Linked DNA regions of Homo sapiens. The protein of the gene in region 2 purifies or fractionates together with the protein of the main gene of each other region. This does not show direct contact. Each region holds a gene or a part of one and is shown on either strand. Other genes may lie near its edges.

Region 1 (3,754 bases), on a different chromosome or scaffold from region 2:
CATGGAAAGAACAAGGAAGTGTGACCTCTACACAGGAAAAAACTAAGCAACAGAAACTGTTTCTCTTGGATAGAACAACTAGGCAGGAGATGAAGGCAGGAGAAGACTTGAGCAACACTGTAAACTGACTGTATACCTCATGTCTGTAAAACAACACCCAACAACAGCAGAATACTTTCCTCTCAAGTAAACATGAAACATAGTCATATGCTAGACTGTAAAACATGCCTCAGGCAATTTAAGAAGATTAGATTCTTAAAAGGATATTCTCCAAACACAAGGAAATGAAATTAGAAATCATTAACATGGCTGGATGCTGTGGCTCACACAAGTAATCCCAACACTTTGGGAAGCCAAAGTAGGAGGATCACTTGAGGCCAGCCTGGGCAACATAGGGAGACCCCGTCTCTACAAAAAAATTTAAAAATTAGCCAGGTATGGTGCCAAGCACCTGTAGTCTCAGCTGTATGGGAGGCTGAGATGGAGGATCACTTGAGCCCAGTTGATCAAGGCTGCAATGAGCTATGATCACAGCACTACACTACAGCCTAGGCAACAGAGCAAAGACCCTGTCTCAGAAAGAAAAAAACAAAAAAAAAAACAAGAAGATTTGAAATCAGTAACCTATCTTTATACTTGAGGACCTAGAAAAAGCAGAGTAAACTAAACCTGATGTAAGCTTATGAAACGAGGTTTAGAGTAGAAATAAACAAACAGTAGAAAATCATTACAGAAAAATCAACAAAACCCAAAGTTGATGCTTTGAAAAGCCTTAACTAGACTGGCCAAGAAAAAAAGGAGTAAAGACTCACATTACCAAATCACTAGAGACCTTACTGAAATAAAAAGGATTATAAGGGAATACAATAAATAACTATATGCCAGCAAATTCAGTAACTTTGATAAAACGTACTAATTCCTAAAAAGAAACTACTGAAACTGACTCAAGAAATATGAAATCTGAATGACCTTTCAAATGTGAAAATATTGAGCCAGCATGGTGGCTCACACCTATAAATCCCAGCTTTGGGAGGCCAAGCTGAGAGGATTGCTTGAGACTAGGAGTTTGAGACCAGCCTGGACAACATAGCAGGACCTTGTCCCTATTTAATTTAAAAGAATATAAATAAATGAGTGAAAAAGTTAAAACTCCCCACAAATAAAAGGCCAAGCCCAATTGGCTTCATTGATGAAGTCCACCAAATGTTTAAAGAAAGGAATTGGCCAGGTGCGGTGGCTCTAACCAGTAATCCTAGCACTTTGGGAAGCCAAGGCAGGCAGATTGAGCCCAGGATTCAAGATCAGCCTGGGTAACATGGTAAAACCCTGTATCTACAAAGAATACAAAAATTAACCTGGTGTGGTGGCTCAGCCTATAGTCTCAGCTACTCAGGAAGCTGAAGTGGGAGGATCACCTGAGCCCAGGGAGGTTGAGGCTACAGTGAGCCATGATCACACCACTGCACTCCAGCTTGGGCAACAGAGTGAGACCCTGTCTCAAAAATAAAAACGAGTTAATGCCAATCCTTCACAAACACTTCCAAAAAACAGAAGAGGAGGACTACTGCATTCATTCTGTCACACCTGCACTATTATCCTTGATACCAAAAGTAGACAAAGGCAAAAACAGACCAGCATTTGTTACGAATACAGATATAAAATTTTCCAACATACGTACCAGCAACCTGGATCTAGCAATATGTAAAAAGATTATACACCATGAGCAAGTGGGATTTATCCCAGGAATGCTAGGTTGGTTCAAAACATGAAAATCAATATAATAAACCATATTAATATTAAGGGATTAAAAAACACATGATCATCTCAATAGAGGCACAAAAATAATTGGAAAAATCCACTAGCCAGAAACACTCAAGAAAATAGTGATATTAGGCCTGGCGCGGTGGCTCACGCCTGTAATCCCAGCACTTTGGGAGGCCGAAGCGGGTGGATCATGAGGTCAGGAGATGAGACCATCCTGGCTAACACGGTGAAACCCCGTCTCTACTAAAAAAAAATAAGAAAATTAGCCGGGCATGGTAATGGGTTCCTGTAGTCCCAGCTACTCAGGAGGCTGAGGCAGGAGAATGGTATGAACCCAGGAGGCGGAGCTTGCAATAAGCCGAGATCGTGCCAGTGCACTCCAGCCTGGGCGACAGAGCAAGACTCTGCCTCAAAAAAAAAAAAAAAAAAAGTGATATTATTATTATTATTAAATAATATTAAACAATTATTGTTTAATTATTTAAACTTGATATTATTTAATCTTTAATTATTTAAGCTTTTAAATAATAATAACATTTAGAAATTGTTATGCCAGGCACCAAACCAGACATTCTGTCTTCTTAAATTTTCACCATAGCCCTATGAAGCAGTTAGTTGGAATGGGAGCATCTGCAGTGATTTGCCCATGGCCATTCCAGCCGTAAGTGATGTAGTCATGGTGGGAAAGCAGGACTGCTGTTTCTACTACAGTGTCTTGTTCTTTATTCATTTGTTTTCTTTGCAAAGTCAGATCCTTTATTTGCTTCCTTTTTTGCCATTTACAGCCTTCAATTTGACCCAGCGCCTCGTCGTGGTGAGCCTCATGTTACACGGCGCACCCCAGACTACTTCCTATAAATTTCTCCTGGGAAACCTGCCTTTGTATGTGGAAGTATACCTGGCTTTTTAAAATATATGTATTTAAAAACAAAAAGCAACAGTAATCTATGTGTTTCTGTAACAAATTGGGATCTGTCTTGGCATTAAACCACATCATGGACCAAATGTGCCATACTAATGATGAGCATTTAGCACAATTTGAGACTGAAATTTAGTACACTATGTTCTAGGTCAGTCTAACAGTTTGCCTGCTGTATTTATAGTAACCATTTTCCTTTGGACTGTTCAAGCAAAAAAGGTAACTAACTGCTTCATCTCCTTTTGCGCTTATTTGGAAATTTTAGTTATAGTGTTTAACTGGCATGGATTAATAGAGTTGGAGTTTTATTTTTAAGAAAAATTCACAAGCTAACTTCCACTAATCCATTATCCTTTATTTTATTGAAATGTATAATTAACTTAACTGAAGAAAAGGTTCTTCTTGGGAGTATGTTGTCATAACATTTAAAGAGATTTCCCTTCATTTAAACTAAATTACTGTTTTATGTTGATCTGCATATTTCTGTATATTTGTCATGACAGTGCTTGCATCCTATTTGGTGTACTCAGCAAATAAACTTTTCATTTTAAACAAAAACATTCATTTATTGTGTTGTGCATTAAATGAAAACTTTATTTTTTCTAGACCAGGTCTTGCTCTGTCATCTGGGCTGGAGTGCAGTGGCACAGTCATAGCTCACTTCAACCTTGAACTCCTGAGCCCAAGCCATTCTCCTCCCTCAGCCTCCTGAGTAGCTGGGACTACACTCAACATACCACCACACCCAGCTAATTTGTAAAATATTTTGTAGAGACGGGATCTTGTTATGTTGCCCAGGCTGGTCTTGAACTCCTGGCCTCAAGTGGCCCTGCCAAATTCTTGAGATTATAGATGTGTGCCATCACACCTGGCCTGCTATCTTGAAACGACATAAAATCTTTCAAAGCAGGGCAATGGGACATGGCTATAGTCCCAGCTACTCAGGAGGCTGAGGTGGAGGATGGCTTGAACCCAAGAGCTTGAGGGCAGCCTGGGCAACATAGCAAGATGTCATCTCTAAAAAATAAAAAATAGGCTGGGCATGGTGGCTCATGCCTGTAATCCCATTGC
Region 2 (3,754 bases):
GCTTTAATATTTTTATATAATCAGGATTATCTTGTTTTGAATGGTTTCTTGGCATGTTTAAAAAGGCATTCCCAGCCGGGTACAGTGGCTCATGCCTGTAATCCCAGCACTTTGGGAGGCTGAGGTGGGCAGGTCACCTAAGGTCAGGAGTTCAAGACTAGCCTGGCCAACATGGTGAAACCCCGTCTCTACTAAAAATACAACAATTAGCCAGGCATGGTGGCCGGTGCCTATAATCCCAGCTACACGGGAGGCTGAGACGGGAGAATCGCTTGGACCTGGGAGATGATGGTCGCAGTGAGCCAAGATCACACCACTGCACTCCAGCCTCGGCAGCTGAGTGAGACTCCATGTCAAAAAAAAACAGCCATTCCCGGCTGGGCGCCGTGGCTGACACCTGTAATCCCAGCACTCTGGGAGGCCGAGGCGGACAGATCACCTGAGGTCAGGAGTTTGAGACCAGCCTGGCCAACATGATGAAACCCCGTCTCTACTAAAAATACAAAAAATTAGGCATGGTGGCGGATGCCCATAATCCCAGCTACTCGGGAGGCTGAGGCGGGAGAATCGCTTGAACCTGGGAGGCAGAGGTTGCAAGAGCCAAGATCGTGCCACTGCACTTGAGCTTGAGCGACAGAGCGAGACTCCGTCTCCAAAAAAAAAAATAAAGTAAAAAATAAAAAGGCGTTCCCTGTTCAAAATTGTGTTTAAAATTCTCTTATGTTCTTGGCTGACATAATTATAGTTTTTTTTTTTAATTTGCCTTTTAATAATTTTTATTTAGATCTTTATATGAAATTTAGTTTTTAGGATAGAATCTTGGCATATAGAATTACATATATGAACATAATATATATCATGTTACATGCATATATGCACACTGTCGAGCTTGTTAATTGTTCTATTTTGGCTAGCTTAGGCCCTTTTTCTTCAGGATTAAAGATCTGAACTAAGCCAGGCGACTGGGTAGCAGATGTGGAAGCTGATGGTTAGGCCCAGGGCATGGCCAGGTGACAGCTCTCCAGTCACTCTTCTCTGATTTTCATTTGTTACTTTTCTTACCCAGAAAGGATCTATGTTTATGAAAATAAAAAGGAAGCATTGCAAGCTGTCAAGATGATCAAAGGGTCCCGATTTAAAGCTTTTTCTACCAGAGAAGACGCTGAGAAATTTGCTAGAGGAATTTGTGATTATTTCCCTTCTCCAAGCAAAACGTCCTTACCACTGTCTCCTGTGAAAACAGCTCCACTCTTTAGCAATGACAGGTTGAAAGGTAAATCATGCAGCCGTTCACATCTTGATGTTCCTGTCACATTGATCCCACCCTGTTTTGTGCCTTCTTTCCTCTGATGTGGTAACTTGTTTTCTCCATGAGGGTAGAGTCGATGGGGTCTCAGTGGACCAGGAGGCCATGCTGGCTCTGATGCTCGTGTAATTAGCATCTTGACTCTGGAGAAGCTGAAAAGAACGCTGTGGCCGCTTCCATCTGTCCCCGTGTCTGTTGGATTTTTTTCTTTTTTTTTTGTAAAGAGACAGGGTCTTGTTCTTTTGCCAGCCTGGAGTGCAGTCTGGTGCTATCATGGCCCACTGCAGCCTCAAACTCCTGGGCTTAAGCAATCCACCTGCTTTAGCCTCCCAAGTAGCTGAGAAATAGGCGTGCACCACCACACCCAGCTAATTTAAACTTTTTCTTTTTTTTTTTTTTTTTTTTGAGATGGAGTCTTGCTCTGTCGCCCAGGCTGGAGTGCAGTGGTGCGATCTTGGCTCACTGCAAGCTCCACCTCCCGGGTTCAAGCGATTCTCCTGCCTCAGCCTCCCGAGTAGCTGGGATTACAGGTGCACACTGCCACACCCGGCTAATGTTTGTATTTTTAGCCACCATGTTGGCCAGGCTAGAATTTAAACTTTTTTTATGGAGACAGGGTCTTGCCATGTTGCCAAGGCTGGTTGAATTGCTGGCATCAAGTGATCCTCCCATCTCAGCCTCCCAAAGTGCTGGGATGACAGGCGTGAGCCCCTGCGCCTTTTTGGATCCTGAAACCAGTCTACTTCCCCACCTGAAGCTATACCTACTTCAAGGACTAGGGCATCTGGAGAAGGCGGGCTTATCTGTAGGAGCGGTCCAGCCCGAAGTCTGACCCATGCCCACCTCCCAGCTCAGAACTAGGGTTTTGTGTGAAGAGGCTCTTCACGGTCAGTGTGGGGTAGAACCTCCGCCTTTACCTTTCATCTGGCCTCAGTTCCTGCTCCCTCTCGCAGCTCACAGTTGTCTGGGCTTCCCTGGCGGGCTGGTACTCCAGAGGAATGTTGCCCTCTCCTTCCAGTCATCCGCCTGCCCTCAGTCAGCCTTATACAGGTGCTTCCTGGATGGAAACCAGAGTGGCTTCTAACAGGTACGGATTTCCTTCTTTGCAATTTGTGAGGATTCCTCAGAAGGAAATCACCTTAAGACAGAAATCAGGCCGGGCGAGGTGGCTCACGCCTGTGATCCCAGCACTTTGGGAGGCTGAGGCGGGTGGATCATCTCAGGTCAGGAGTTTGAGACCAGCCTGGCCTACATGGTGAAACCCCGTCTCTATTAAAAATACGAAAATTAGCTGGCCGTGGTGGCAGGTGCCTGTAATCCCAGCTACTTGGGAGGCTGAGGCAGGAGAATTGCTTGAAACTGGAAGGCGGAGGTTGCAGTGAGCTGAGATCGCGCCACTGCACTCCAGCCTGGGCGAAAGAGCAAAACTGCGTCCCCCCCAAAAAAATCAGCTGGGCGTGGTGGCAGGCTCCTTAATCCTGTAATCCTTTGCAGCCACACTGTGCACATCGAAGGTCTTGCGTGATTTCTGGGAGTGTTCCCTTGCCCGCTGCTGCCGTTATTCCTCCTCCACCTACTGACCGAGCTTTCAGAGTTCACTGGCCGGGTGTGGTGACTCGTCCCTGTAATTACAACACTTTTGGGGGCTGAGGCAGAAGGATCCCTTGAAGCCAGGAGTTTGAGACCAGCCTGGGCAACATAGACCTCATCTCTAAAAATACGTGTGTATATATATATATATATATATATGTATATAAGCCAGGCGTGTTGGCATACAACTGTAGTCCCAGCTACTTGAGGGCCTGAGATCACTTGAGCCCAGGAGGTCGAGGCTGCAGTGAGCTATATTCGTGCCACCACACTCCAGCCTGGGTAACAGAGCCAGACCCTGTCTCTGAAAAAACACAAAGTTCACCAAACTTGGCCTCATTCACAGAGCCTTTCCCAGCAAGATTGTGGCAGGGTCTGGCTGCTCTTCCACTTGCTGTGCTCATGGGGGCGCGCTGGCTGCCGTTGTAGGCTGGGGCCCCCAGTGAGATTGTGGCCGGGTCTGGCTGCTCTCCCTCACTTGCTCTGCTGACGGGCACGCTGGCTGCCATTGATTGCGTTGCATGCTGGGGCCGGTGGCCGTGGGCCCTTCTCGTCTTTTCTCACCTGTGCCTCCCAGTTGGCCCAGAAGCCTCTGTGGAAAGCTGCTTATCCCTCATCAGAGGGTGCATGGGTGATGAGTGACTTTTGGTGAAACTGATTGTTCTTAAATTCTGTCTCTTACTGACAGATGGTTTGTGCTTGTCGGAATCAGAAACAGTCAACAAAGAGCGAGCGAACAGTTACAAAAATCCCCGCACGCAGGACCTCACCGCCAAGCTTCGGAAAGCTGTGGAGAAGGGAGAGGAGGACACCTTTTCTGACCTTATCTGGAGCAACCCCCGGTATCTGATAGGCTCA

The links. The genes of interacting proteins can lie anywhere in the genome.
Region 1: the proteins of ANKLE2 (region 2) and PPP2CB purify together in Homo sapiens (affinity purification with mass spectrometry; 6 studies listed by BioGRID and IntAct, with this or other methods). This does not show direct contact.

Annotation. Positions count from the first base shown.
Region 1 is NC_000008.11:30,785,103-30,788,856, reverse strand, and holds the end of PPP2CB (serine/threonine-protein phosphatase 2A catalytic subunit beta isoform), read left to right. Parts: intron 1-2,549; coding exon 2,550-2,622; 3' UTR 2,623-3,241; downstream 3,242-3,754.
Region 2 is NC_000012.12:132,748,162-132,751,915, reverse strand, and holds part of ANKLE2 (ankyrin repeat and LEM domain-containing protein 2), read left to right. Parts: intron 1-1,066; coding exon 1,067-1,273; intron 1,274-3,584; coding exon 3,585-3,754. UniProt on the Homo sapiens protein: Involved in mitotic nuclear envelope reassembly by promoting dephosphorylation of BAF/BANF1 during mitotic exit.